Homo sapiens: one gene and its partners. The protein of the gene in region 1 purifies or fractionates together with the protein of each later gene. This does not show direct contact. Each region holds a gene or a part of one and is shown in the gene's direction. Other genes may lie near its edges.

Region 1 (4,190 bases):
GTGGTTTTTAAAGTGTGGTCCCTGGACCAGCAGCATCACCATCACGTGGGAACTTCTCAGTAATGTAAATTCTTCACGCAATACCCAGTGAACCATAAACTTTGGAATTAAAGCCCAGAAGTCTGTGTTTTATTGAGTCCTCCAGGTGATTCTGTGCATGCTAAAGTGTGAAAATCACTGCTTCATACAGACGACTATTTAAAAAGTCAGCTGTAAGAACACAATTAGACCTAAAGTACCTGCTTCTCCGCTACTCAGGTCACGGTATATTATTCCTTTCCCACCTTGTCCCTATCGTAGATGGGAAGTGATTATAGTGGTGGTCAAGCAAATGACAAGTGTGACAAGCAAATGACAAGTGGGACCAAGCAGCAGCCACCGTAACAACCTCCTCTCTGGCTCCCAAAGCTCTAGTAAGGCTCTGGATTAAAGACAAACTTGAATGCTGCATTTCCAAAGCATGGTGCTCTACTACATGCATCTGAATCACTTGGGAGACTTGTTAAAATGCAGATGTCAGGGCCCCACTCAGGAACTAATGAGCTGGAATCTCTGATGGAGATGCTGAGGAATCTGCATTTCAACATGCACCGCTGGATAATTTTGTTTCTGATGCACGGTAATGGTTGTGGACCACTGAGCTAATGCAGTGCATCTCAGTGATTACTGTCCATCAGAAGCTTGTTAAAAAATATTCTTGAGCACCACCCCCAAAGGTTCTGGTTCAGTAGGTCAAGGGTGGGGCCCAAGAATTTGATTTCTATAATGCTTTTAAGTGAAGCCAATACAGACCACACTTAGAGTAACATGTTCTAATTTTTTTATGAACCAGGAATTAATAAACTGGGCAGATAGTAAAGCATTGCCCACAGAGGTTGAAAGAGACTTTCAGATTCATCGAGTCTAATCTCATCAGATGGTTGAGCTTCTTCCACAAAATCCCCACCAAGTGGGTCTCTTTGAATGCTCTACCAACAAGGATCCCACTACATCAGAGATGAACCATTTACTTAAATCAGATCAATCACCCAACTATCAACTAAGCACTTACTATGTGCAAGTCTCTATGTTAAGTGCTAATGAAGATAAATGAGTTTTCTCAGGGAGTCAGGGAACTGTAACTAAAGAGTACAGCTCTTTTGTTTTCACTTAAATATGTGTCATTATTGTGGAACTATTAAACCACACCATTGTTCATTCTACACACATAATGAAAAAAAAAATCAACAAATTTTTATGATAGTGTGATTCATAGAACTTACTTTCATTAATTTTTGCTTTTATTTTTTTCCCATAGCTGGGCATGGAGCAGCATTATGAACTTGGAGAGTATATAAGAAAGAGATATAGAAAATTCTTGAATGAGTCCTATAAACATGAACAGGCAAGTTGGGGAGCCAAGAGTGGGAACTTTGATCTTTGAAATAATTAAAATAATTCTGCATATATAAAAGTGCTTTGCCTGTTTTCCAAGGAACTTATACAAGTCAGAGGTCTTGTTTACAAATATATTCCTCTTTATGCAAATTTTTGTTCCAAAAAGTTTGTGAATATGAGTAATTTCAAGATTTTATGAACACCTGAATAAATACTTTGGCTTGACAAGTAGCCACTGCTTAATTGATCTCATTTGTCAATTCAACTATTGGCCAACCAGGTTGCTTTGTACCATGATCATAATATTGCTCATTCCTTAACAAGTATTATGATTCTGATGTTAGCACAATGTCTGTAATATTTCACTGTGGGTGTCCTTTCCTTTCTCTAATACCTTGGCAGCTCTGTAGAAAAAAACCTCATGCTCCCTTTACGTTCGCTTCTGCTTTGATTTTCCTACTCTAGGTTTATATTCGAAGCACAGACGTTGACCGGACTTTGATGAGTGCTATGACAAACCTGGCAGCCCTGTTTCCCCCAGAAGGTGTCAGCATCTGGAATCCTATCCTACTCTGGCAGCCCATCCCGGTGCACACAGTTCCTCTTTCTGAAGATCAGGTCAGTATACTGGGAAAACCAGGAGATTTCAGATGGACCTAGAATGAGGAAGGCAGGCTACTCAACAGTTGTGGATTTGGGAGTCTGGACACTCCTTGAGCTGTGCAGTTTTAATTCTTTCTTAAATAAAGATACAAAGGACAATTTAGGACATGGAAAACCCTAGCTAAGAGAGAGTAGGAACCAAATTTCTCTTTGGATCTGTATGATCCACTTTGTTTTGCCACTCTTGCAACTCTTGGCAATTTGCCCCCTCATCGTCATACACAGAGAGAGAGAGAGAGGGAGAGGGAGATAGACAAGTCCCCCAGTGTTCTGCCTTAATTCCCAGGCTTTTGGTGCCCCAAACAGGTTTCTCCACTCTCCAGATTATCCAAAGATATTTATACCACCAAACACTCCTCCACTCATGAAAATCCACATTCCTAGGTAGAGAAAAAAAGATTTGAGTGCATAATCATTGCCTAACATTTTATGTGAATCATTGTGTTACCTTTCATAACAACTCTGAATGGACAATATTCTTGCTCTCCTTTTATAGTGAGGGAAATAAGTGCTTGGAGAGGTTAAATAACAAACAAATTGGTCCAAAGCAACACTGCTGGCAAGCATCACTCTGGGATTAAAACTAGGCCTATTTCATTCCAGAGCAATTTTCTTCCCTATAAAATCATGATTCTCAGACTTAGCTGCATATTAGGATCACGTGGTTTTTTAAAAAAAATCCTGATGCCCAGGGCACTCTCCGTAAGAAATCGGAATGTCTGAGGGTGGACCCAGGCATCAGTGTTTGAAAAATAATCTCCCTCGATGATTCCAGTGGGGAGGCAAGTTTGAGAACCAGTACTATAAACTAAGCTGCCTGAATGGGGCTGTTTGAGAGAAACTCTCAAACGTGTTTACACAGGTTGGGACCGACCAAGCTTTCTTTAATCTTTTCAGAGGAATGGGTATTTTTAAAGTAGCAATAGATAAATCTAACTAATCTTCCAGGTGTGAAACTTAAGGCTATATGAAAGAAATAGTTTGGGACAAAGAATCCCTTCCTAATTTCCCTGCAGTCCCATCATAGGCATGACCATCGCATCTCTTTATGGCTGAAGCTTAGCCTGACTGCTGGACCCAGACTTTTGCCCAGTGACCTCTGGGGTAGGTTACTATCCTCTTTGTCCTGCCAGTACCCCTAGAAATTTGACTTAATTGCTGCATCTAGGGACTTAGGGATTTTTCCCAAATGCTGTGTAGAAAGTCACTGGAGTTAAATCTACTCCAACCATTTTTCTGCTGTTTCTTGAAAAGACAGGATGATTCATTTACATCTCTTTTCCTTCACAGAATCATGAGGGAAGTATTGTGATTACCAGTGTTAAGCATTTGTGAATATTTTATTCCAAAAAGAAAAAAAATCACTTTACCAGCCTTTTCTGCAGAGATAAAGACTGGAGGTCAGGTGCGGTGGCTCATGCCTGTAATCCCAGCACTTTGGAAGGCTGAGGCGGGCAGATCACCTGAGGTCAGGAGTTCGAGACCAGCCTGGCTAACATGGTGAAACCCCATTTCTACTAAAAATACAAATATTAGCTGGGCATGGTGGTGCACGCCTGTAATCCCAGCTACTCAGGAGGCTGAGGCAGGAGAATCACTTAAACCTGGGAGGTGGAGGTTGCAGTGAGCCAAGATCGCACCGTTGCACTCCAGCTTGGGCAACAAGAGCGAAATTCCGTCTCAAAAATAAATAAAAAACAAAACAAAACAAAGACTGGATAGCAGCACCAAAATTTAGCAAAATGTAGACCACAACAGCTATTTAACAATTAATCCTGAATGATAGTAATTAAGTTACACAGAAAGAGAATGCAGGTGCTAGTAGAAGAGGAGGAAAGAAACAGGGAGAGTGAGGGAGAGAAAGAGAGAAGCAAGGAACATTATCTACCTATGGCTTCCATCTATCTGATTCACTAAGGTCAAAAAAATTCTCTCATATCAACTAAGAAATCTAATGAAACCAATCAACACTAGCTTATTCCTAGCATTTAGCTGTGCTGAATGCTGTAGAGAAATAGGAGGCGAAGTTTTTCTAATTTATAGTTTGATGAAAGCAAATTAGCATGTGTGAAATGTGTAGAAGACATTATAAGATGGCGGGCAATAATTTCAAGTACAAGCCACATATGCTGGGTGAAGTCAGAGAATGA
Region 2 (4,190 bases), on another chromosome or scaffold:
GGCAATACAGCAAGACCTTGTCTCAAAAAAAAAAAAAAAAATGAAAATCCAGATATTTCACAGAAAAATCTAGATTTCCAGCTTTTCTGGAAAAGTCAGAATATCTGGTAACACCAGGCCTGTTTTTCTACATGACAATTCTCTCTTAGAGTTAAGTAGCTGCATGGGCACTTGTGTTCAGAATCTCTGACTTACTAATTAAGCAAAATAACAAATCACTACTGAGAGGATTCCTAGTTCACCTATTGGTTTATTCTGTAGATCACAGACCACAAAACATTTTCATTCGAAAAATTGTGTAGCCATCATTTGTTTCAACATGAACAGAATCACAAATTAAAGATTGATATTGATGCCCTACCTGCCACTCTTGTCCTTATCTTTAAAGCAATGATGAGTGGCATTATCAGTTTATGTTAGGGAACTTCAGATAATTGAGAGCTATACAAATTTTCCCTTTCAAATATATGAGGCTGTTATTTTTTACAACCATAGACACCAAATATAGCCATTATTCTTTTTCTTCTCTATTTTGAACAGATACTCAGAACTAACCACTGTTCAACAACAGCTAATTAGGGAGACGCTCATATCATGGCTGCAAGCTCAGGTAAAATCATAATTTCATTCAGTACCTCAAATTATTAGATATTTAAACTTATTTTTTGCAAGAGTTTGGAACTTTACCTCAAAGATTTTCATCAGTGTTCCTCCATTTGATTTCATAGCTTTTTTAAAAGGTGCTGGTTTTAAAGATCATGGAAGTGGTAGTTTAGCAATAATTTAATATTATATCAATGACTGAAATGGTCATAGTTTCCATGACACATTGTGGAAACTTTGGTTTTAAAATGTAGTTGTTTTTAACTACTTGACAAATGCTGCTTTCTGTTTGGCTCTTAAAGGTGAGCCCTCCTGGACAGCCTCTCCACCAGAGCCCTTTATAAAGGGCCAGTTGAGTTCTTTTCAGTTAATTTTAGCTAATCTTAACACATAAAGCAGTTGTGTAGCTAGAGTTTTCATTTTCCTTAAAGAGCAAGTAGAGGAAAATTTTTTTTTCTTCTTAGAAGAAATTATAGGAACTATTAAAACTCTGCACATGAAACTTTTCTGTCAAAGTGTAAGAATGAGGAATAATCATTACAGCCTTTAATGGTTCATTTAATTGTTCTTCATCTGGTCAATCACTTAAATACTTTTGATAATTTTGATAATCATAATTATCAAAATAATTTTGAAGAGTATTTGTTGCATAGTTTATCTGGGCCATGTTGACATTTGATGAAACTTTGCCTTTTAATAAGACAACTGGTGTTTCTGGGTCTTTTCAATTTACATTTAATTTTATGGACTGTTTCTCTGTTTGTCAGATGCTGAATCCCCAACCAGAGAAGACCTTTATACGAAATAAAGCCGCCCAAGTCTTCGCCTTGCTTTTTGTTACAGAGTATCTCACTAAGTGGCCCAAGTTTTTTTTTGACATTCTCTCAGTAGTGGACCTAAATCCAAGGGGAGTAGATCTCTACCTGCGAATCCTCATGGCTATTGATTCAGAGTTGGTGGATCGTGATGTGGTGCATACATCAGAGGCAAGTAACTAACCATGAATTTTTTATATTTAATGTAAGTTTTGTAGGTGATAATGGGCACATAATAAAAAGAGCAGGGAAGTTTTCTTTCTTGAGGTAAACTTTCTTAAGTTATATAATTATAAATTTACCTGATGTTTTGGATTTTATTTTATGAAGGAACTCAAACTTGGTTATTTTTTTTCCAGAGGTATATTGAAATTAAAGTATTACATTACATTTTTTATTTTTTTACTTTTTTGAGACGGAGTCTTGCTCTGTTCCCCAGGCTGGAGTGCAGTGGCACAGTCTTGGCTCACTGCAACCTCCGCCTCCTGGGTTCAAGCGATTCTCCCACCTCAGCCTCCCTAGTAGCTGGGATTATAGGCACATGCCACCACGCCTGGCTAATTTTTGTATTTTTTGTAGAGATTGGGTTTCGCCAGGCTGTGCTCAAACTCCTGACTTCAGGTGATCCGCCCGCCTTGCCCTCCCAAAGTGTGGGGATTACAGGCATGAGCCACTGCGCCCAGCCTAAATTTTTTTTAACTAGGCAAATACTGTAGTGACATACACGAGTTGATTTTCTTTTATGAATCTGTTGAGAAAGGTAGTCTCAATTTAATACTGCTATATAGTCCCTGAGCAAGGAAGAAGCATTGCTTAGGAGTTGTCCGTGTTGCTACTTCTGTATTCTTCATCACATAGTGTAAGTACTATGTTACTATATTGAGAAATAACTTAAAATATGCTTAAGATTTCTAAGCAGTGCTTTTTATAGTTTGTATTTACTAAGAAATTAACTCTGACACTGAGGAGTAGAACAGAAAGAGGAAATACAAAGAATCACAGGATATGATCTTAGAGCTGGTAAATAGGAAATACTGGTAGGGAATGTGTTAACAAGTCTGAAAGTTTACTCTCTGCAAGTATATTCAGATATCAAACATGATTTTGTAAGGTAATCTACTTTGCATTTGGCGTTTTGTATTTTAGGAGGCTCGTAGGAATACTCTCATAAAAGATACCATGAGGGAACAGTGCATTCCAAATCTGGTGGAATCATGGTACCAAATATTACAAAATTATCAGTTTACTAATTCTGAAGTGACGTGTCAGTGCCTTGAAGTAGTTGGGGCTTATGTCTCTTGGATAGACTTATCCCTTATAGCCAATGATAGGTAAGTATGCCTATTATTTTTATAGTATAAACTTGTAAAATACAGTATCTAAAACTCATGACTTTGAAAATGTTACAATTTTATTGTCCCATTACCAGGTTTATAAATATGCTGCTAGGTCATATGTCAATAGAAGTTCTACGGGAAGAAGCATGTGACTGTTTATTTGAAGTTGTAAATAAAGGAATGGACCCTGTTGATAAAATGAAACTAGTGGAATCTTTGTGTCAAGTATTACAGTCTGCTGGGTTTTTCAGCATTGACCAGGTTGGTAAATTTATATAAAACATTGTATGTAAAGTTGTTAGAACAAACTGGGATAGGTACTAAGTTAAATATAATAATAGCTTTTTTTCTTCTAAATGTTATAAACTCCCCTTGAGATTATAATATAAACCACTGCATCTAGCCAAAATGTTCTCAGTAGCATTCTCCTTGGAGAATGGGTTATACCAGTTCTTAAACCTGAAAGCCTGTAATTGCACATTTCTCACAAACTCTTAGGAGATGCTGACACAACTTGTTCATAGTGGAATTGAGATTTTTTGTTTTGTTTTGTTTTTTGAGATGGAGTCTCACTCTGTTGCCCAGGCTGGAGTGCAGTGGCACAGTCTCGGCTCACTGCAACCTCCGTCTCCCGGGTTCAAGTGATTCTCCTGTCTCAGCCTTCCGAGTAGCTGAGATTACAGGCGCATGCCACTACACCCGGCAAATTTTTTACCTTTTTGGTAGAGACGGGGTTTCACCATGTTGGCCAGGCTTGTCTCGAACTCTTGACCTCAGGTAATCCACCCACTTCGGCCTTCCAGAGTGCTGGGATTACAGGCATAAGCCACCGTGCCCAGCCTGGAATTGTTAAATATATGACGTCATTTTAAAATTGAATCCTGTAATTAGCACTTGATTCATATTAAAGTTCAGTTTTTCCTCTTAGCTTGGGCAGGCAGTTTTAAACAGAGATGTGTCTTGATTGCTTATAGGAAGAAGATGTTGACTTCCTGGCCAGATTTTCTAAGTTGGTAAATGGAATGGGACAGTCATTGATAGTTAGTTGGAGTAAATTAATTAAGAATGGGGATATTAAGAATGCTCAAGAGGCACTACAAGCTATTGAAACAAAAGTGGCACTGATGTTGCAGCTACTAATTCATGAGGATGATGATATTTCTTCTAATATTATTGGATTTTGTTACGATTATCTTCATATTTTGAAACAGGTAAGTTTTTGTTTTATTCTTTTTGCTCAATACATAATACAAAGGAGCCATGGAGAAGTGGAAAATATGGAAAAATTAAAAATGAGAAAATACCCATAATTCTACTACCTAAAGATATTTACTGTTAAATACTAATGTATTTCCATCTTAAAAAAAAAAGAATTGGCCAGAAAATAGTTTCAGGTTCTAAATTCAGTAGACTAACCAGCTTCAGAGGTAGTTAT
Region 3 (4,190 bases), on another chromosome or scaffold:
CTCCCTCACATTTCTACTGGAAATCAGATGAAGCTTGAGATGAGAAAAAAATCAGATCTATGCCTCATTCAGTTATATTCAATTAAGAGAGAGGAAAGCATTTAATGGGTTGGGATTGGGTTTTCAGGCTTCTTTCCTAAGAATTTGTTTTCCTTCTATGTGGTTGTAGAATAAATTTGCTATTTTATTTTATTTTTTTGAGACAGAGTCTCACTGTGTCACCCAGGCTGGAGTGCAGTGGCATGATCTCGGCTCACTGCAACCTCCGCCTCCCGGGTTCAACCGATTCTCCCGCCTCAGCCTCCCGACTAGCTGGGATTATAGGCGTGAGCCACCACACCCAGCTAATTTTTACATTTTTACTAGAGATGGTGTTTCACCATGTTGCAAGGCTGGTCTCGAACTCCTGACCTCAGGTGATCTGCCCACCTCGGCCTCTCAAAGTGCTGGGATTGCAGGTGTGAGCCACCACGCCTGGTGTAAATTTGCTATTTTAAATAGCAATGATGATGAGGTATAATTAAGACTCTCTGTTTAGTGTTAGGGCAGGATAATAATAGTAGCTAGTATGTGTTGAGCCATGGTAAGTACAGGTTGAGCATCCCGTCTCTGAAATCCTTGGGACCAGAAGTGTTTCCAGTTTTTTCAGATGTTGGAATATTTGCATATACATAATGACTTATCTTGTGGATGGTACTCAAGTCTAAACACGAAATGCATTTATGTTTTATATACACCTTACACACATAACCTGAGATAATTTTATATAATATTTTAAATAAGTTTGTGCATGAAACAACGTTTTGACTGCAACCCATCACATGTCAGATGTGGAATTTTCCACTTGTGGCATCATGTTAGCACTCAAGAAGCTTTGGATTTTGGAGCATTTTGGATTTGGGAGTTTTGGGTTAAGGATGCTCAACCTGTATGTTATATATTAGGGCTGCTCAACTTGTAACTTTACAGAGAAGGAAACTGCGGCACTGGGCCTTTCCCGGGACCCACAGGTCAGAAAAGGTGAAGCGGGTCTGAATTAAGAGCTTTCTTTAACCACCTTGGCATGCTGCCTTTGAGGGTAAATAATGTCCCTGTTTCAAGGTGAGACTGAACACTGATTTGTGCTTAATATTAGGACAGGAGATAATCTATAAATAGATATGGTTCTGTTTAGATTTGATTCCAAACCTAATGGTGTATGTAATTACATGATTACTACTATTAATACAGAACACTGTTTGGTGAGATGCCAAAGTCTGTATTTCATGCAGGAAACTAGACTGACAGCTACAGCTTAACACACTAATGTTGGTAATTAGTGAAGCTCTCGCTTAACTAAATGGGCCATTTGCCTTTGAAACCAGTGTGTAAATAGAAATAGAGTAATCTGTCATCCCAATCCACCTCTTTTGTCCTTAGTTTGAGGACTGGCTGTAGTTCTTTCCCAAGCTATCCAGACATTTCAAACAAACTGTGCACAAAAAATATTAATAAAGAAGAGAAATGCTGAATTCCTGATGGGAATTTTGGTTGAGTGAATCCAATGTCTCCCTCCATCCAGGGCCTGTTAGGCTCTTATTGATGGGCAAGGATAAGCCTCTGGGTCTAAGTGCATTAGCAGGATATAACCCATTCCCCTCTTTCCATACAGATGCTGTGTCTGATTGGTCTCCTATGCATGAAGCTGCAATCCACGGACATCAGCTGTCTCTGAGGAACCTCATCAGCCAGGTAGCTTTTTGAAAATACAATACAGAAGAAACCTATCAAAATATTAAAACAAATGTGTGACATAATAACATAGGGACTTTTAAATTAATTCATTAAATAGAAGACCTAGTGGTGATTCTAGTAACTACCATAACGTCTAAATAGGATGAGTATAGATTTTGAGATATTTTAGATGTCTACAGCAATTGTAATACAATAGAAAATATCTGTAATTTCTATTGGAGATAACCCTACATAATACTATTACTACTGTGGTTTGTTGTCTACATTCTGAACTGAAGGAAATGCTAAATTTCAGATAGAGCTGAGTGAGAATAAATGTGCTTTAAAAAATCCAATTTCATAGACCTATCTAGAGTAAGAAGTCCTCCTATAAGAAAATAATTTCTAAAGAAAAATTTCATACTATCCTAAGCCACTATCTTAAGCCATTTTTGGTAGCAGCAGTCTATTATAAATAGATTATAACACTAATTCTAGCTAAAAGAAGTTAGGCTACTTCTCAGATAAAATTAGAAATTTACCCTATTTTGATAGCATGAAAAATGATCACTGCAGCTTTTATATATCACTTCTTAAATTGGACAGATACTCATTTACATTCAGTATTTATGTGTTTATGAAACATCAGCCAGAACCATATCTCCAAGTTCTATCACATTATTTGTGTAAGATGTCTTTTTAGAGCCCCGGTTTCTGCTTTCATAAAATGAGTATTCTAATACCTACCTAGGTCAGTCCACCCCATAACTCAATAACAAACCATCCCAAAACTCAGTGACATGATACAGTAACCATTATTTCTTGCTGATGTGTGTTTGTGTCAGTTCATCTAGGCTGGGCTTGGCTGGGCTTGGCTCCCAGCTGTGGGTTGGGTGTAGCCCTGCTGCACATCTCTTTCATCCTGCTTGGACCACTGGCTACCTGAGGAATTATTTTTTCTTGGCAAAACGCTGGAGCACAGCAGGACAAGCCCCACCATGCAAGAATACTTCCAATCTGTTCATGTCACATCTGCTAACATCCCACTGGTCAAGTCACATGACCACATCCAAAGTCAAGGCTCAAGAGAAGTACATTTTGTCAACTAAGCGTAGTTGACGACTGAAAATAGATATATTAAAGTTAAGCCATTCAATCTTTTTTTAAAAACTAAGAACTGACTGTGGACTGAACACTGTGAAGTAATGGGTTAATTACCTTATGATTTTATATGACTCAGACTTGTTAATAATTTAGACAAATCACAGTTAATTTAAGGTAGAACTGTAGCTTGATGATGAACTACAAATGAGTTTCTAACTTTACAGAAGGAACCTCTCTGCAATGTGAATATGTGGTGAAAACTTTTTGTGTTACGAATAGCTGTGTTGTTGTATTTCATTTACGTGGATTTATGTATAAACACCTAAATGCTGGTTTTATTTTTATCATTATTATTATTATTATTATTATTTTTTTGAGATGGAGTTTCACTCTTGTTGCCATCTGGAGTGCAGTGGCGCGATCTCGGCTCACTGCAACCTCCGCCTCCTGGGTTGAAGCAATTCTGCCTCAGCCTCCCGAGTAGCTGGGACTACAGGCATGTGCCACCACGCCCCGCTAATTTTATATTTTTAGTAGAGACGAGGTTTCACCATGTTGGTCAGGCTGGTCTCAAACTGCTGACCTCAGATAATCCATCAGCCTTAGCCTCCCAAAGTGCTGGGATTATAGGCATGAGCCACCGTGCCTGGTCTAAATGCCGGTTTTACAATGGCAGTTGTGCCTGGAGGAGTATGCACATTTTCCTATTGGTTGTTTTTATGGTTGCCTTTTGCCCAAGTTCTGTACCTCGGCCTGCCTTCCCCCAACTTGTGTCTGATACACTTGCATGATTTTTGCTTCATGTGACAATCATACCCCTCTTGTGGCATTGACAAAGCTACTTTCTATAAGTGTGATGACTGTGAGAAAATAAGATATTTTCTCCTGCCAATTGGACATTTAAGTCTTAGGTATGAATAGTAAAGTAAGAAATGACATATTCTTTTCTTTGATCACGACAAAAGTTGGCACATTTTTTTCTTTCTTTTTTTTTTTTTTTTTTTGAGACGGAGTCTTGCTGTCGCCCAGGCTGGAGTGCAGTGGCGCCATCTCGGCTCACTGCAGGCTCCGCCCCCTGGGGTTCACGCCATTCTCCTGCCTCAGCCTCCCGAGTAGCTGGGACTACAGGTGTCCCCCACCTCGCCCGGCTAATTTTTTGTATTTTTAGTAGAGATGGGGTTTCACCGTGTTAGCCAGGATGGTCTCGATCTCCTGACCTCGTGATCCGCCTGCCTCGGCCTCCCAAAGTGCTGGGATTACAGGCGTGAGCCACTGCACCCGGCCAAGAGTTGGCAAATTTTTTTCAGTAAAGGACCAGATAGTAAATATTTTAGGCTGGGAGGCTGAGGCAGGAGAGTGGCGTGAACCCAGGA
Region 4 (4,190 bases), on another chromosome or scaffold:
TGAGAATTCACCTAAAAGATTCAAGCTGTTGATTATTAAGTCTCAGTGAAGGATACATGGGGGTGCATCACATCCTCTCTGCTTTTTTTTTTTATTGAGACGGGGTCTTACTCTGTCACCCAGGCTGGAGTGCAGTGGTGCGATCATAGCTCATTGTAACCTTGACCTTCTGGGCTCAAGTGATCCTCTCGCTATGGCCTCCTGAGTAGCTGGGGACTATAGGTGTGCACCACCACACGTAGCTAATTTTTGCATTTTTAGTAGAGGTGAGGTCTCACTATGTTGCCCAGGCTGGTCTCAAACTCCTGGCCTCAAGTGATTCTCTTGCCTCCACCTCCCAAAGTGTTGGGATTACAGGCGTGAGCCACTGTGCGCGGCCCCTCTCTACTTTTTAATTTTTTTAAAATTTTTAGTTTAAGACAATCTCACTCTGCTGCCCAGGCAGGAGTACAGGGGCACCATCTCTTTTGGCTACAGCCTCTGCTTCCTGGGTTCAAGCGATTCTTGTGCCTCAGCCTCCTGTGTAGCTGGGATTACAGGTGTGCACCACCACACCCAGCTAATTTTTGTATTTTTAGTAGAGATAGGGTTTTGCCATGTTGACCAGGCTGGTCTCGAACTCCTGGCCTCAAGTCATCCGCCCACCTTGGCCTCCCAAAGTGCTGGGATTACAGGTGTGAGCCACCGTGCCCGGCCCCTTCTCTCCTTTTTTTTATTTCACAGTAAAGAGTTAAGTTAAAAGACAAGTCAGGCAAAGAGAGTTAGGGTGGCCTAGCTGGGTCAGAGTCCCCTGCCTGTGCTTCTTGTCTGCTTCTGCTCCTTCTTTGCCTTTCCTGCATCTGGTACAGTTGTAGCTTGCCATTGCAGGTGCTGTATTTCTCTGAATCCCTCGTGCCCACGGCAAGGAAGGCTTTGTGTGACCCACTGGAGGAGGTCAGAGAGGCGGCAGCCAAGACTTTCGAGCAGCTGCATTCCACCATCGGCCACCAGGCTCTGGAGGACATTCTCCCATTTTTACTAAAGCAGCTGGTGAGTGGATCTACCACACACCTACCTACCAGTTTGGCTTTTGCCGTCTTTGTAGATGGAAAATACAGGGCGATTATTCTGCCAAGGCAGTCGCAATGTGGGCCCTCCAGAGGGAGTGGGTATAGCAAGATCAGACTTGGCTTTGTGCTTCGCCTTCGGCAGTGAGGAAATGTGGGTGCAACAGGAGGGAGGGAAACAAGTGGAGAAGGAAGTTGGCGGTGGCTGGTTGAGACAGCAGAGATGCAGATTCCTCAGGGTTGTCCCCAACACCCTCTGCAGGATGACGAGGAGGTGTCAGAGTTTGCCTTGGATGGTCTGAAGCAAGTCATGGCTATTAAGAGTCGTGTGGTGCTGCCCTACCTTGTGCCCAAGGTAAATCCCAACATGTGGTCAACACCCTCTGGCTCCAGGGCATTGACATTTCCAGGGCCTGCAGTGAAGACCAGTTCTGAACGTAGATGTTGGAGGGCTGGGGGAGGAGGGTGCAGTGCAAGCATTACATCCTTCCCCTGTTGTCTTCCAAGATATGCTGGAGTAGATGCTTGGCTCTGAGCAGTGGGCTTGGGCTCTCTTGCCCACCCGTCTGTTCCCAGAGCCTAGCGCAGCACCTGGCACAGTATTCACTGAGTTAATGTTTGTCATTCCACCAGCTGACAACGCCACCTGTCAACACCCGGGTGCTGGCTTTCCTTTCGTCAGTGGCTGGTGATGCCCTCACCCGTCATCTTGGCGTGATCCTCCCAGCGGTCATGCTGGCCCTGAAGGAAAAGCTTGGGACCCCAGATGAGCAGCTGGTAAGGGGCGAGCCTGCTCCTGCTTTCTCATGTCCCGTCTGCCCGGAGGATCCCTGCTCAGCACACATGTCCCTTGTGGTTTGCAGGAGATGGCCAATTGTCAGGCTGTGATCCTCTCCGTAGAGGATGACACAGGGCACCGGATCATCATCGAGGATCTGCTGGAGGCCACCCGCAGCCCTGAGGTGGGCATGAGGCAAGCTGCTGCCATCATCCTCAACATCTACTGTTCCCGCTCAAAGGCTGACTACACCAGCCACCTGCGGAGCCTGGTCTCGGGCCTGATCCGCCTCTTCAATGACTCCAGCCCTGTGGTTCTGGAGGAGAGCTGGGATGCCCTAAATGCCATCACTAAGGTGAGGGGACTGCTGACCCCACAGCCAACTTTTGCTTTTAGAAAATTCCAGACATTTACAGGAATAGACTTATAAGAATCCCCCACGTACCTGTCACTCAGCTTCGGCGTTTACCCACTCGTGGCAAGTCTTGTTTATACTCCCGCCCACGCTTTCCCCATATATTCTTTGGAAGCAGTCTTGAGAGGGCTGTACATCCTCTCGCTTTTTCCTGGATTCCTGCAGAAGCTGGATGCTGGCAACCAGTTGGCACTCATTGAAGAGCTGCACAAGGAAATCCGGCTCATAGGGAACGAGAGCAAAGGCGAGCATGTGCCAGGATTCTGCCTCCCGAAGAAGGTAAGCCAGGGCCTCGTGCAGGGGGCTGTGGGCGTGCAGTCTGTTGTGCCCTTCTGGCCCTTACCCCTGTCCCAGGTCTGCGGTAGGGGCTGCTGGAGCAGTAGCCGTGGTGGTTGGTGTTCAGCACCTTCGCAGACAGCATGTTTTCTTCCATGGCAGTCAGATGGGGACAGGGTTCATGCTGCCTTTGGTTTAAGCTCTGCAGGTCACCTTGGCCAGAGTGAGTGGGCCACAGGGTAACAGCAGTGCATGTTCTCTCTGTGTGATAGGCCTGTTGGGGCCCTTGTCGTCTTTTCTCTGCCAAGACCGTTCCATAGCCAGCCCTCTCAGGCTGTGATCCTGAGATTCAGCCCAAATCAATATCTCCCATGGAGTTGAGGGGAGGACAGCTGTCAGGACCACTTTGCTTGCATGGGAGACACCAGGGCCCAGGGTGTTTGAGATTTGACTCTCAGTTGTGGTTCTCTTGTCAGGGAGTGACCTCCATCCTTCCAGTGTTGCGGGAAGGAGTCCTGACTGGCAGCCCTGAGCAGAAGGAGGAGGCAGCCAAAGCCTTAGGCTTGGTAATCCGCCTGACCTCGGCTGACGCCCTGAGGCCCTCCGTGGTCAGCATCACTGGCCCTCTGATCCGCATCCTGGGGGACAGGTTCAGCTGGAATGTGAAGGCGGCTCTGCTCGAGACACTCAGCCTCTTGTTGGCTAAGGTGAGTGGCTGATGAGTTTGTTCAGATCTTAGAGAACAGGTCTGTCTGCAGGAGCCTGATACAAGGTGTCATGTAGCAGCAGGGCAACAGATTTATTGTGGAGAGCCGCATAGCAGAGGGAGGTAAGACCTTGGACTTCAGACATGCTACACCATGGGTCAATTCCAAGTCGTCCTTACTAGCTCTGTGACCAGGATGACCTTGGGAAAGCCATATAACCTAAGCCTGTTTCCTCACCTACAATGTGAGACTAATAATACCAGCTGCCTCATGAAGGGCTGCTAGATATGGGGATTAGATGAGGTTATGTCCAGCATGATGCCTGCTACATACTAAGCACTCAGTACATGTGAAATGCTATTATTTTGAAAAACTACTTTTTCAAAGGAAAAAATTCAGGACCACGTAAATACAAGGAAAACATTGTTTAAAGATATTGCAGTTTTTGTTTTTTTTTGTTTTTTGTTTTGTTTTGTTTTGTTTTTGAGACAGAGTCTAACTCTGTCACCCAGAGCTGGAGTGCAGTGGCGCGATCTCGGCTCACTGCAACCTCCGCCTCCTGGGTTCAAGCAATTCTTCTGCCTCAGCCTCCCAAGTAGCTGGGATTACAGGTGTCTGCCACTACACCTGGCTAATTTTTTTGTATTTTTAGTAGAGACAGGGTTTCACCAGGCTGGTCTCGAACTCCTGACCTCGCACAGCTCAGATTTACCAGCTCCCCCTATCCCCTTTGTGTGCCTGCCACAGCCTGCACACCCACCCAACTCCAGTATTTCCAGACCTTCATTGGCACTGAACCTCCAAACAGTCACTCTGGTTTTCCTAATTAACAATAAGTAAGCCGGGCGTGGTGGCTCAAGCCTGTAATCCCAGCACTTTGGGAGGCCGAGGTGGGCAGATTACCTGAGGTCGGGAGTTCGAGACCAGCCTGACCAACATGGAGAAACCCTGTCTCTACTGAAAATACA
Region 5 (4,190 bases), on another chromosome or scaffold:
TCAAGTATTTATTGAAGACATGCTGTGTGTCAAGAACCAGCTTGGTGCTTATAGCAGTGGGTAGTTTTATCCCTTTTTGGTCTTTAAGGTATTTCTATCCAAAATGGTAAATGTTTTGATTATATATATGCAGTGACTTAGGTTGGTGTTTAGGCTTCAGACAGTATAAATATTTGCTAAAGAAATCACTTGAAATATGCAAGAAAGAGGTCCTTGTTGTAAGACTCAGGTATTTTTATTGTTTTATGAATATTTAGAAGATTTGACCATAAACATATTCTGCCTCAAACTTAACATTTATCAGGGTTTTGTTTTGCTTTTTTTTTTTTTTTGAGACAGAGTCTCCCTCTGTCACCTAGGATGGAGTGCAGTAGTATGATCATGGCTACTGCAGCCCTGACCTCCTGGACTCTAGCAATCTTCCCACCTCAGCTTCCTGAGCAGCTGGGACTAGAGGCATGTGCCACCATGCCCAGCTAATGTTTGCATTTTTCTTTTTCTTTTGTAGAGACAGGGTCTCACTATGTTGCCCAGGCTGGTCTCAAACTCCTGGGCTCAAGCAGTCCTCTCACCTCAGCCTCCCAAAGTGCTGGGATTACAGGAATGAGCCATCTCGCCCAGCCTATCGTAGTTTTTATACTTTCTTTCTTGTTTAATTTTTTTTGTGTTTTAGGGCTCTTGGTGGTATCGCTCAATACGCTATAGTGGAGACCAGATTCTAATACGCACAACACAGATTTATACATACTTTGTTTATAAAACCCGAAATATGGATATGAAACGTAAGTAAACTTTAAGTAACTTTGCTATTAATCACATTGTTTTGTGACTTATGTGGGGTTGATATATATTCCTTAACTCTATACTGTTGAGATTCTATTGTACAGTTTTATAAATAGTTAATTTATATAATTAAAGCTAGAGAAAAATGCCAGCACCCTTTGTCACATTTCTTAATTTATATTTTCATTATTCACATTTACTCATATATTTCATCAGAAATTTTACCATAATCCTTATGCGTGCAAATTTTGTAATTCTAGCTAACATTTATTATTTGTTGTATGCCAGACACTGCTAGTTACTGTATGTGTCTTGACTCATTTAATTTTTGCTGTGTTCTCGTAAGTGAGTGCTGTTTTACAGTACATCTTATAGATGAGGAAACTGAGGCACCGAAAAGTAACACTCTCAAGGATACACAGTAAGTGATATCCAGGATTGAACCCAGGCAGTCTGGTTCTTGAGCCTTAAACCATTATGTTATAGTGTATTAATTGTAGTAAAAATAAAAAGTCTTAGGTGTGTTGAAAGAAAACTAGTGCTAGAGTATTTCATTCCCAGTTCTTATTTAAAAATTTAAGAAAAAAAATACTATTTTCACTTTCTTTGATTATATAAAGCAAACTTTGCAGTTTATCCTTGGGAGATAGAGTGTTACCTTTCAGAATGATGGCTCTGCAAAAATCATAGCTGCTCCTCCATCCCTCTTTAAAAAAAAATAAAATAAAAGAATGTAAGTTTTGAATTGTGTCTCCGGGACCAAAATGGACTTTTCTGCATTTTGGATTTGGCAATTTTACTAATTTTCTTAGTAATGAGAGAGACTTCTCATGGTCATATATGACTGTGTGTGAACAGATTTTACATTTCTGAATGAGTTAATACTACTTTGCCTTATCGAAAATATTACTCTTCCTAAAGCTGGATTGAAATGTTAATACAGAAACTTACTCCCTTATGAAAATGTTTCATGTTTATAATTTTAAGTGTGCTTTTTGCCTCAATCATTTTGATTTCTGTTTCTTTTCTGAGGGTGGTATCCTTACACAGCTTTGTCAGAGAAGCATTGTTTAGCTGGTGGATTTCTTTACACATTCTAGGTTATTTTAGCTGTTTTAGGAACAGTTGTTATTAAGTAAACATTTGAGGGTAGTAATAGTAATAGCTCACACAAGTACTGTGCTTGCTGTGTGTCAGGCACATATGAAGAAGCTGAGATACACAGATATGAAGAATATTGTCCTAGGTCATTTAGCTAGGAAGTGACAAAATACCAAGGTCTGTGCACTTAACTTCTATACTATCCTGCCTTTTGTGAGTACATTACATGGATTTTTTTTTCTCTGAGGCAAAGTTTCTCTCATCTCCCAGGCTAGAGTACAATGGCACAATCTCAGCTCACCACAACGTCTGCCTCCTGGGTGCAAGCAATTCTCCTGCCTCAGCCTCCCGAGTAGCTGGGATTACAGGCGTGCACCACTATGCCTGGCTAATTTTTGTATTTTTAGTAGAGATGGGGTTTCACCATTTTGGCCAGCTTGGTCTCAAACTGGCTGGTCTCAAATTCCTGATCTTGTGATTTGCCTGCCTTAGCCTCCCAAAGTGCTGGGATTACAGGCGTGAGCCACCACTGGCCTGAGGGTTTTAATCATGTGTATTTCCACAAAATCCTCTTGGGTTCCATAATAAAATTTTTTTGGAAAATTATAATGCATATTAGGTTTACAAAAGGCCTTGAGAAGTCATGTAGTAAAGAAACCTTTAACTCTTGTTTACATTATTTTCAGCTTTATTTAATCATAGGGCCCCCTTTTTTCACGTGAATTATTAATACCACACAGAATACTGATGTTCTATAGAAAGTTTCTGTGGAACTTTCAGTGATTTTAATGCCTCCAGTTGCTTTGGTGTGCTTTATTTGATCTATACTTCTGTTCACTTGTGGTGGTTGATACTGTGTACATTTTAAAAAGCGAGATGTTACTTTTTTTATGGAAGAAATAAATACTTGTCAGTGGAGTTCAGATAATTTTTAGCATTGTGCATGTTTAGAAAAGTGCTTCACTTTCAAGTGAATTAAGTATCTCAGGAGGGGGAATTAATGAATGAGCATATTTATTTACCTTCATATTTCTTTTGTTTTGTTAGGTCTTATCATGGTTTTGGCTGGAGCTTCTGAATTTGATCCTCAGTATAATAAAGATGCCACAAGCAGACCAACGGATAATATTCTAATACCACAGGTTAGGCTAATTTCCCAAATCCCCCGATGAGCAGTTAAGTATTAAAGTGAATACTTTTTTTAAAAAAAGCGTGTTTTTGAATAATTATTTTATTTATTCTAGCTAATCAGAGAAATTGGCAGCATTAATTTAAAGAAGAATGAGCCTCCACTTACCTGCCCATATAGCCTGAAGGCCAGAGTTCTTTTACTGTCTCATCTTGCTAGAATGAAAATTCCTGAGACCCTTGAAGAAGGTATTTGTGATTCCGGTATCTACAGAGGTTTAGTGGGATGAAAGCAGCAGAATTAATTAGACTTAATGGTGTGTATTAGTTTGTTCTCGCATTGCTCTAAAGAAATACCTGAGGCTGGGTAATATATAAACAAAAGAGGTTTAATTGGCTCATTGTTCTGATGGCTGTACAGGAAGCATGGCTGGGGAGGCCTCAGGAAACTTTTATTCATGGCAGAAGGCAAAGCCAGAGCAGGCAAAGGCAGAGCAAGTGTCTTCACATGGCCAGAGCAGGAGGAAGAGAGAGATGGGGGAGATGCCACACGTTTTTAAACAACCAGGTCTTGTGAGAAGTGTATCTCGAGAACAGCACCAAAGGGAGAACTCCACCCCCCTGATCCAATCACCTTCCACCAGGCCCCACCTCCAGCATTGGGGATTACCATTCAACATGAGATTTGGGTGGGGACACAGACCCAAACCATAGCATGGTGGTGCGGTGTGTTTTGTTGCTGTTCTTTTTTGGCCAAATAATTGCTCAAGGACTTTTTAAAAAAGAAATGTATATGCTACATAATTACTTCACAAATGGTTTGAAGATCTAAGTAAGTCAGACGTTTTGGCAAGTGTTAAAATTTAGTGTTTCAAGGTGAGAGAATGCTCTGTATAAGAAATGTTTAGTTAATTGCAGATCATACAAAAGTTCCTAATAATTTTTTTAAAGGACTTTGTAAGTTTTTGGAGGGAGCAAAATGGATTTCACAACAACCAACACCTCTCACCTCCCCATCTACAAGCTTCCTCCGACAGTGGTTACCAATAATGTCTGTTTTATAGTTATTTAAAGCTTCATAAGTACTTGAAGCCATGTATTCTGCTTAAAAGAAAAGTAGTTGATGGAGGCAACAGTGTTTCCAGGGATGTCATTAATTATCTCTTTTTCACCGACAT
Region 6 (4,190 bases), on another chromosome or scaffold:
CCCACCAGGATCCAGGCTATTGTAAGACCAGGGTCCCCTGGCTTCTGGCGAGGGAGGGAGCAGGTTAAGCAGGGCTGGCGTCATCCTGCACGGGCCCCTCCAGTCCTAGCCTTTCTCCTTAGGAGCTCTTTATGCTTCTTGATCTCCTGGGAGCCCCCAATCCCACCTTCTACAGCCACTTCCCTCGCACGGTCCGCTGGTTCCATCGGCTGAGGAGCATTGGTAAGGGTGAATGCGGAGGTGGGCCCCAGCCCACCTGGGGTATGGGGTACAGGGCGGTGGGCTGGGGTAGGACAGGCACCTACACTCTAAAGGCTCATCCACCAGTCTGGGCCACATAGGGAGACCCCATCTTTTTTTTTTTTTTTTTTTTGAGATGGAGTCTCGCTCTGTCACTGAGACTGGAGTGCAGTGGCATGATCTTGGCTCACTGCAACCTCCACCTCCCAGGTTCAAGCCATTCTCCTGCCTCAGCCTCCCGAGTAGCTGGGACTACAGGCGCATGCCACCATGCCCAGCTAATTTTTGTATTTTAGTAGAGACAGAGTTTCACTATGTTGGCCAAGCTGGTCTTGAACTCCTGACCTCGTGATCCGTCCACCTCAGCCTCCCAAAGTGCTGGGATTACAGGCGTGAGCCACCGTGCCTGGTGACCCCATCTCTTAAAAAAAAATTAGCTGGGTGCAGTGGCATGCACCTGTCATCCCAGCTACTGGGGAGTATCCTTAGAGCCTGGGAGGTCAAGGCTATAGTGAGCCAAGATTGCGCCACTGCACTCCAGCCTGGGCAACAGAATGAGATCCTGTCTCAAAAAAATAAAAAATAAAAATAAAATAAAGGCTGGGCTTGGTGGCTCACACCTGTAATCCCAGCACTTTGAGAGGCAGGTGGATCACTTGAGCTCAGGAGTTTCAGACCAGCTTGGGCAATATGGCGAAACCCTGTCTCTACAAAATAAAAACAAACATTAGGCCAGGCGCGATGGCTCACACCTGTAATCCCAGCACTTTGGGAGGCCAAAGCGGGTGGATCACCTGAGGTTAGGAGTTTGAGACCAGCCTGGCCAACAGGGCGAAACCCCATCTCTACTAAAAATACAAAAAGTTAGCTGGGCGTGGTGACATGTGCCTGTAATCCTAGCTATTCGGGAGGCTGAAGCAGGAGAATGGCTTGAACCTGGGAGGCGGAGGTTGCAGTGAGCCGAGATCACGCCACTGCACTCCAGCCTGGGCAACAGAGCGAGACTCCATCTCAAAAAAAAAAAAAAAAAAAATTAGCCAGGCATGGTGGCACCTGCCTGCAGTCCCAGTGACTTGGGAGGCTGAAGTGGTAGGATCACTTGAGTCTGGGAGGTCGAGGCTGCAGTAAGCTGTGATCACACCACTGCACTCCAGCCTGGGGACAGAGTGAGACTCTGTCTCAAAAAAAAGTAATAATAAAAATTAAAATTAAAAAAATTAAAAATTGTTTTTAAAAATAAAGGCTTGGCTGGGCGCAATGGTTCACGCCTGTAATCCCAATACTTTGGGAGACTAAGGTAGGTGGATCACAAGGTCAGGAGTTTGAGACCAGCCTGGCGAATATGGTAAAACCCTATCTCTACTAAAAATACAAAAATTAGCTGGGTGTGGTAGCGTGTGCCTGTAGTCCTAGCTACTCCGGAGGCTCAGGCAGAAGAATCGCTTGTACCTGGGAGCACAGGTTGCAGTGAGCTGAAATTGTGCCACTGCACTCCAGCCTGGGTGACAGAGCGAGACTCTGTCACTAAATAAATAAATAAATAAACAAATAAATAAATAAGAAAATAAAATAAAGGCTCACCCAGCCTTTCCTCTACCTCCCTAGCCTTTCTAAGGAACTAGAGATTAGTAATAGTGATTACCAGACAGGGGCTCTAAGGTGAGACAGCCGTGGTTTCCAATCTTACCAGCTGGATGAACTTGGACAAGTGGCTTCATTTCTTTGAGCCTCAGTTTCCTATCTGTAAAACGGCCAGTGGGGGCCGGGCCTGGTGGCTCATGCCTGTAATCCCAGCACTTTGGGAGGCCGAGGTGGGCGAATCACAAGGTCAGCAGTTCGAGACCAGCTTGGCCAATATGGTGAAACCCCATCTCTACTAATAATACACAAATTAGCTGGGTGTGGTGGTGGGCGCCTGTACTCCCAGCTACTCAGGAGGCTGAGGCAGGAGAATTGCTTGAACCCGGGAGGCGGAGGTTGCAGTGAGCCGAGATTGTGCTACTGCACTCCAGCCTGGCGACAGAGCAAGACTCTGTCTCAAAAAAAAAAAAAAAAAAAAGGCCGGAGGGCCCAGACATAGTGGCTCATGCCTGTAGTCCCAGAAATTTGAGTGACCAAGGCAGGAAGATCACATGAACCCAGAAGTTTGAGGCCAGCCCGGGCAACACAGGAAGATCCCATTTCTACACACACGCGCACACACACACACACACACAATTACCCAGGCATGGGGGCATGCGCCTGAAGTCCTAGCTATTTGGGAGGCTGAGACTGAAGGATCACTTAGGCCAGCGAGATTAAGGCTGCACTGAGCTGGGATTGTCCCACTGCACTCCAGTGTGGGTGAGAGAGCAAGATCTTTTTTTTTTTTTTTGGAGACAGAATCTTACTCTGTCACCCAGGCTGGAGTGCAGTGGTGCAATCTCAGCTCACTGCAACCTCCACCTCCCAGGTTCAAGCAATTCTCCTGCCTCAGCCTCCCAAGTAGCTGGGATTACAGGCGCCCACCACCACACCCAGCTAATTTTTGTATTTTTAGTAGAGACAGGGTTTCACCATGTTGGCCAAGCTGGTTTCGAACTCCTGACCTCAGGTGATCCACCTGCCTTGGTCTCCCTAAGTGCTGGGATTACAGGCATGAGCCACCACACCAGGCCACAAGATCTTGTCTCAAAAAAAAGAATGTCTATGTCTTAGACTCTGAGGGATTGAATGAGACCAGGAACATAGTGAGCCCACAGGAAGGAGTAACTGGCATTCACTCTTGTTGGGCTGACCAGGGCTTTGTCTCTGGGTGCTCTGCCTTCCTCTGATTTGTGGACTGGGGACCTTCGACTACTAAGGACTAACCCTTCCTCTCTAATCGCCCCCACTTCCAGAGAAGCGTCTGCACCGTTTGAACCTGCTGCAGTCTCATCCCCAGGAAGTGATGTACTTCCAACCCGGGGAGCCCTTTGGCTCTGTGGAAGACGACCACATCCCCTTCCTCCGCAGAGGTACCAGCTGCAGGGAGGGATGGAGGGTGGGTGTCCAAGGAAGCCACAAATTGGAACTGGCCAAGTCCCCTTCCCAGGGCTGGGGAATGGTGCTAAGTGGCCTTAACCTCTTTGTGCTTTGATTTATTCATCTGTAAAATGGGGATAATACTCCCTATCTTAGAGTATTGTTGAGGGGATTGAACATGCTAACACCGGTAAAGACCTTACTTGGACCAGCACCCAGCACATAGCAAGCATTCCAGAAATGTTTGCAGCTGGGCACGGTGGTTCACAGCTGTAATCCCAGCACTTTGGGAGGCTGAGCGGGGTGGCGGGGGGGGATCCTTGAGCCCAGGAGTTTGAAACCAGCCTGGGCAACATGGCATAAATCTTGTCTTTACTAAAAATACAAAAAAATTAGCCGGGCATGGTGGTTCACACCTATAGTCCCAGCTACTCGAGAGGCTGAAGTGGGAGGAGCACTTGGGCCTGGGAAGTCAAGGCTGCAGTAAGCCTTGATTGAGCCACTGCACTCTAGCCTGGACAACAGAGGGTGATGATATCTCAAAAAAAAAAAAAGTGCCAGGCTGGGCATGGTGGCTCACACCTGTAATCCTAGCACGTTGGGAGCCTGAGGCGGGCAGATCACCTGAGGTCAGTAGTTTGAGACCAGCCTGGCCAACATGATGAAACCCCATCTCTACTAAAAATACAAAAATTAGACAGGTGTCGTGGTGCCTGCCTATAATCCCAGCTACCCGGGAGGCTAAGACGGTAGAATCGCTGGAACCTGGGAGGCAGAGGCTGCAGTGAGCCGAGATCACGCCACTGCACTCCAGCCTGGGCGACAGAGTGAGACTCTGTCTCAAAAAAAAAAAAAAAGTGCCAGAACATAGTATCTTTCACCAGTGTGTGGTGGCAAGGCAAGGTTACCTAGAGGTTGGGCTTGGGCTCCTGGGTTGTGGTGGGCTG
Region 7 (4,668 bases), on another chromosome or scaffold:
ACTGCTGCTGTCCACAACTGTGGGCGGAAGTGTGCCTTTTCCCAGTTTCTCGTCCAGGAGGTTGCATAGCAAATACTCAAGTCACTGGGATATATGCTTTCCAAATGCTGGCCCCCATAGCACCTTTCCCCATGTCTTTCTACCAAGCCTCTTATGTTTAATCTGTGCAGGGAAGACAAGAGTAGACCATATTCTCTGTGTGCTGTGCATGTCCTGGTGTCACTCATTGCCTCTTATCTGTCGCCATTCTAATATAAGTCAGCTTAATAGTTGACTCTGAATAATGCAAAACCCAGCTTGCTTCCAGAATGGCCTAGGACCCTCCTCCTCCTGCCAGTTTTTTTTTTTTTTTTTGGTTCATGTGGCATAATCATCTTTCAAAATTAACCAAATGCCCCAGAAAATGATGTTACCACTAAAATATTTTCTCCAAGAAGGCATACTGTAACAGAAAAGATAGGTAAGATATTTTTTTCCCAAGAAGTAAGAATTGATTGTGCTGAATGTTCAAACTCTGGAAACTGTTCACAGTATGTTGTTCTTAGCTGTTATTTATATAAAGTGAATTATTTTCTCTCTCAATCATGCCATAGTGGAGACTTTTGTTTGTGAGTAAGTGACAGAGTAATATGAAATAATGTGATATGTCAGAGTGACATGCAGCATCCTGAGCCTGTTTTTATGTTCTGTGTACAGTGGCATTTGATTGAGATCAAAGCCTGTCACAGCCTGCTGCTGGGGGTGTGGGGATATGCCAGAGTCCTGTGTTTGGTTTTAGAAGTTTACTGAATGTTTCCCACATGGAGAATAATGGATGGCATGTTAGTTTCTTTAAGAGTGGTAAAGTTGTACATCTGTCATTGTTGCATTTCGAATTGAACACATAGATGCTTGCCTGTCTGCTTGGGTGAATGCCTCTTGGGAGAGCGAAGATTACGTGCATGATGTATGTTAAGAAACAGTTTCCGGTCAGGCACAGTGGCTTACACCTGTAATCCCAGCACTTTGGGAAGCCGAGGCGGGCGGATTATGAGGTCAAGAGATAGAGACCATCCTGGCCAACACGGTGAAACCCCGTCTCTACTAAAAATACAAAAATTAGCTGGGCATGGTGGCACACACCTGTAGTCCCAGCTACTCGGGAGGCTGAGGCAGGAGAATCACTTGAACCCGGGAGGTGGAGGTTGCAGTGAGCCGAGATCATGCCACTGCACTCCAGCCTGGCAATAGAGCGAGACTCCGTCTCAAAAAAAAAAAAAAAAAAAAAAAAAAAATTAAAACAGTTTCCATAAATGGAGCTTAATTTGCTCTGCTGTCCTTAAGCCCTCGTGGGTTTTTTTTTAAGAGAGTCTCATTCTGTCACCCAGGCTGGAGTGCAGTGGTGCGATCTTGGCTCACTTCAACCTCTGCCTCCCAAGTTCAAACAATTCTCCTGCCTCAGCCTCCTGAGTAGCTGGGATTACAGGCGCCTGCCACCATGCCTGGTTAATTTTTGTATTTTTAGTAGAGATGGGGTTTTACCATGTTGGTTGGCCAGGCTGATCTCAAACTCCTGACCTCAGGTGGTGATCTGCCCACCTCGGCCTCCCAAAGTGCTGGGATTACAGGCGTGAGCCACTATGTCCGGTCAAGCCCTCGTGTTCTGAACCTTGTCAAGGCTCTGCCTGAATGAGTTTTCATCTGATTGTGGGGACCAAGTCCCTGAGTAGAGGGCCAAGAGCTAGGGACAGGGGGAAGAGACTGGCCCAGGTGGTAGGGAGGAAAGAACTCCCAGAGTTTCCTTTAGCCAGGAAACCTGCTCTACTGACCCCGTGACTTGGACAGTCAGACATCACCCTGAGAGTGACAAGTGTAAAATGACTCCCTTCCTCCCCCGCCCTCCGGAAGTATATTTAGATACTTGAAAGCAGTCCTTTTCTAAAATGGCCTTACCTATGTGGCCTGAACGATTAAAAGAAAGAACTCAGAGTTACAAGGGAAAAAGAAAAAGAGTTACAAGGGAATTGTAGTCTTTTTCTGAATAGAATATTAGTACTGTGGTATTGCATTTCATGGGAATGGAAATGTATTGGTAAAGCTACCTGATGGAAGCTTTCTCTTGGTAACAAAAATGGAGGGTGTATTATGTGCAGTTATTTAAATATATGTATTCCATTGTTGCGTGGTTTTTTTCCCCCCTCAAGACAGAGATTTGCTCTTGTTGCCCAGGGTGGAGTACAATGGTGTGACCTTGGCTCACTGCAACCTCTGCCTCCTGGGTTCAGGTGATTCTCCTGCCTCAGCCTTCCGAGTAGCTGGGATTACAGGTGTGCGCCACCACACCCGGCTAATTTTTGCTTTTTTTTTTTTTGAGACAGAATCTCGCTCTGTTGCTCAGGCTGGAGTGGAGTGCAGTGGCACAATCTCAGCTCACTGCAGCCTCTGCCTCCCGGGTTCAAGAGATTCTCCTGACTCAACCTCCTGAGTAGCTGGGATTACAGGTGCCTGCCACTATGCCTAGCTAATTTTTGTATTTTTAGTAGAGACGGGGTTTTGCCATGTTGGCCAGGGTGGTCTCGAACTCCTGACCTCAAGTGATCCACCCGCATCGGCCCCCCAAAGTGCTGGGATTATAGGCGTGAACCACCGCGCCTGTCCCATTGTTGTGTAATTTTAATAATTAGTTTTTTAAGTACTTGATTTTATGGGCACATTTTTGTGGGATGATTGGAGTTAATCAAATAAAGCTTGTCATGTGTGTAGTTTGGTAAGATAACTTCTTTAAATTCATGTTTTCTCTGCCTTGAGGTAGTGAGGGAAAGATCTTAATCAGTATTTTGGTAATTAACTGATTGAATTCAAGCAAATGAGACATCATGAACTTCAGTGGTTATTGATATTTCAGGGTATATACCTGAAATGCCTAGAGGATACAGATTTCTCATTTCATTCTTTGGTCTTTCATTTCTCTATATACAGAAATGAAATGACACTTCTGGGAGGCAGTAGAAGCAGGAAGTCAATGAATTGAGTAGAGGGTCCCATTCCCTCAGGCTGTCATTGATCAGTGACAATTTATAAAAACAAACTGCAAAGTCTGTGGCAAGTGGCTGCCTGCTTCCTAGAAGGAGCCCATGAAGGTTAAACTCTGTGGTCGGTATTTGCAAGCGCCGGGCGTGGTGGCTCACGCCTGTAATCCTAGCACCTTGGGAGGCCAAGGCAGGCGGATCACCCGAGGTCAGGAGTTTGAGGATTTGCAAGCAAAAGGTCCTCTCCTGAGTCTTTCCCAGATACCCAGCAGTGCAGAGGCTAGCTGTGGAAGGTTGCAGTGGGACAGGAATGTATTGTATGCCTTGCCTTACTTGTCACCATTGAGATTTCCAGAGAAATGGGCATAACGTCTCTTAACAACAACAGCAGAAAGCAAAATACATTAACTTAAGGTTGACAACAAAAGATTATCAAGTACCATGTTTTCCAACCAACCAGTTATTCGTGGTAATAATAAAATAAAGGTGGGAAAATGTTATAATTTTTAAGGAAACTGTGTACTTTAAAAATCTTCTTTATGAATATCCAATGTTACTGTAATCCTGCTCCATTAAATGCAGCATTGTTGTCAGGTGCTGCCTCTTGCTTGGGAACAGCATTGGGCTTTTAAATGTCTGCAGAATCTCTGCGTTCGAAGGGAATTGAGAATGAACTTCCTGGTACTGTAATGAAAATAAGGTCTGCTCAACACAGTAAACGTTTCCTCTCTTCTTTAAAACTGCGCAGTCATTTGGCCTTTGTGTTTAGGAAGGGCAGATTGATAGAGCACAAAGTCCAACCCCTTCATCTAGCAGAAGCTGCAAACCCAGACAGAGGAACGAGGGCTTTACCTGAGTCTTGTCTGCTGCTGGGGCTGGCTTCGGGTTGCATCCAGTTCTTTGGATTCTGAGGATCCAAAGCACCCAGGTCTCCTCCAGGTCCTCAACCTCTGGGAGCTGCCCCAGGCAGAACTTGGCAGGCAGGCATAACAGGTGGGGTGGGAGGGGGAACCTCAAGGCAAGAAGGTGTCATGAGACCCCTGGGCCGGCAGAGTTCCTTAGGAGGGTGGCATGGACTTTGCATTTTGCCAGTTCTCTGAGCTCCTACTCCGGGGTGGATATGCATTGAGGATGTAGTCTCTGTGTGATGATGGGGAGGGCGGGGAGGGGCACCTGGTGCCTGTGAAGGCGCAAGAGAGGGCCCTAAGGTGCAGGACCAGGACTAAGCTGCTACAAGGAGGTGGTGCTTAGGTTGAAGCCTGAGGACTAAGTAGGGGCGAGGGGTGGGCAGAGGGGAGGAGCTTGAGCTAGTGTTTTTGAGGGAGCTGCATGGAAGCCTGCACGTGGCCAGGAGAGGGGGAATGGGTTTGATCCTGGGGGCACAAGAAGGCCCTTCAGGGGTTTAAACTGGGTGCTGGCACTAAATGGGTTTTTTCTTGTAATAAACTTTGTGTTGAGGTCTGTAGCACATACTGAAAAGTACATAAACACACACCTTGATAGTTTTTCACAAAGTGAAAGCACTAGCATATCCATCATCCAGATAAAGAAAAGGAAGTTGGAGTTTATTTTAACACTTAAACATCTGATTACAGTCTGGCATCCAGGAAGGGCAGAGCAGCATGTGTCAGACCAGCCTACGCCTGATCATTACACACAC

Evidence for each region.
Region 2: the proteins of ACP3 (region 1) and XPOT purify together in Homo sapiens (affinity purification with mass spectrometry, with the first as the bait; one large-scale study listed by BioGRID). This does not show direct contact.
Region 3: the proteins of ACP3 (region 1) and ASB9 purify together in Homo sapiens (co-immunoprecipitation; one large-scale study listed by IntAct). This does not show direct contact.
Region 4: the proteins of ACP3 (region 1) and GCN1 purify together in Homo sapiens (affinity purification with mass spectrometry, with the first as the bait; one large-scale study listed by BioGRID). This does not show direct contact.
Region 5: the proteins of ACP3 (region 1) and SEC63 purify together in Homo sapiens (affinity purification with mass spectrometry, with the first as the bait; one large-scale study listed by BioGRID). This does not show direct contact.
Region 6: the proteins of ACP3 (region 1) and QPCTL purify together in Homo sapiens (affinity purification with mass spectrometry, with the first as the bait; one large-scale study listed by BioGRID). This does not show direct contact.
Region 7: the proteins of ACP3 (region 1) and UGGT1 purify together in Homo sapiens (affinity purification with mass spectrometry, with the first as the bait; one large-scale study listed by BioGRID). This does not show direct contact.

The regions. Positions count from the first base shown.
Region 1 is NC_000003.12:132,330,350-132,334,539, forward strand, and holds part of ACP3 (prostatic acid phosphatase isoform PAP precursor), read left to right. Parts: intron 1-1,297; coding exon 1,298-1,384; intron 1,385-1,842; coding exon 1,843-1,995; intron 1,996-4,190. UniProt on the Homo sapiens protein: A non-specific tyrosine phosphatase that dephosphorylates a diverse number of substrates under acidic conditions (pH 4-6) including alkyl, aryl, and acyl orthophosphate monoesters and phosphorylated proteins.
Region 2 is NC_000012.12:64,417,506-64,421,695, forward strand, and holds part of XPOT (exportin-T), read left to right. Parts: intron 1-540; coding exon 541-610; intron 611-1,370; coding exon 1,371-1,589; intron 1,590-2,564; coding exon 2,565-2,749; intron 2,750-2,847; coding exon 2,848-3,016; intron 3,017-3,729; coding exon 3,730-3,966; intron 3,967-4,190. UniProt on the Homo sapiens protein: Mediates the nuclear export of aminoacylated tRNAs. In the nucleus binds to tRNA and to the GTPase Ran in its active GTP-bound form. Docking of this trimeric complex to the nuclear pore complex (NPC) is mediated through binding to nucleoporins.
Region 3 is NC_000023.11:15,256,407-15,260,596, reverse strand, and holds part of ASB9 (ankyrin repeat and SOCS box protein 9), read left to right. Parts: intron 1-1,651; coding exon 1,652-1,731; intron 1,732-4,190. UniProt on the Homo sapiens protein: Substrate-recognition component of a cullin-5-RING E3 ubiquitin-protein ligase complex (ECS complex, also named CRL5 complex), which mediates the ubiquitination and subsequent proteasomal degradation of target proteins.
Region 4 is NC_000012.12:120,135,534-120,139,723, reverse strand, and holds part of GCN1 (stalled ribosome sensor GCN1), read left to right. Parts: intron 1-867; coding exon 868-1,029; intron 1,030-1,308; coding exon 1,309-1,401; intron 1,402-1,679; coding exon 1,680-1,823; intron 1,824-1,909; coding exon 1,910-2,179; intron 2,180-2,404; coding exon 2,405-2,518; intron 2,519-2,991; coding exon 2,992-3,222; intron 3,223-4,190. UniProt on the Homo sapiens protein: Ribosome collision sensor that plays a key role in the RNF14-RNF25 translation quality control pathway, a pathway that takes place when a ribosome has stalled during translation, and which promotes ubiquitination and degradation of translation factors on stalled ribosomes.
Region 5 is NC_000006.12:107,905,519-107,909,708, reverse strand, and holds part of SEC63 (translocation protein SEC63 homolog), read left to right. Parts: intron 1-673; coding exon 674-782; intron 783-2,931; coding exon 2,932-3,026; intron 3,027-3,128; coding exon 3,129-3,261; intron 3,262-4,190. UniProt on the Homo sapiens protein: Mediates cotranslational and post-translational transport of certain precursor polypeptides across endoplasmic reticulum (ER). Proposed to play an auxiliary role in recognition of precursors with short and apolar signal peptides.
Region 6 is NC_000019.10:45,698,679-45,702,868, forward strand, and holds part of QPCTL (glutaminyl-peptide cyclotransferase-like protein), read left to right. Parts: coding exon 1-21; intron 22-103; coding exon of another isoform or gene 104-109; exon of another isoform or gene 110-122; coding exon 123-222; intron 223-3,119; coding exon 3,120-3,236; intron 3,237-4,190. UniProt on the Homo sapiens protein: Responsible for the biosynthesis of pyroglutamyl peptides.
Region 7 is NC_000002.12:128,191,930-128,196,597, forward strand, and holds the end of UGGT1 (UDP-glucose:glycoprotein glucosyltransferase 1 precursor), read left to right. Parts: 3' UTR 1-3,748; downstream 3,749-4,668. UniProt on the Homo sapiens protein: Recognizes glycoproteins with minor folding defects. Reglucosylates single N-glycans near the misfolded part of the protein, thus providing quality control for protein folding in the endoplasmic reticulum.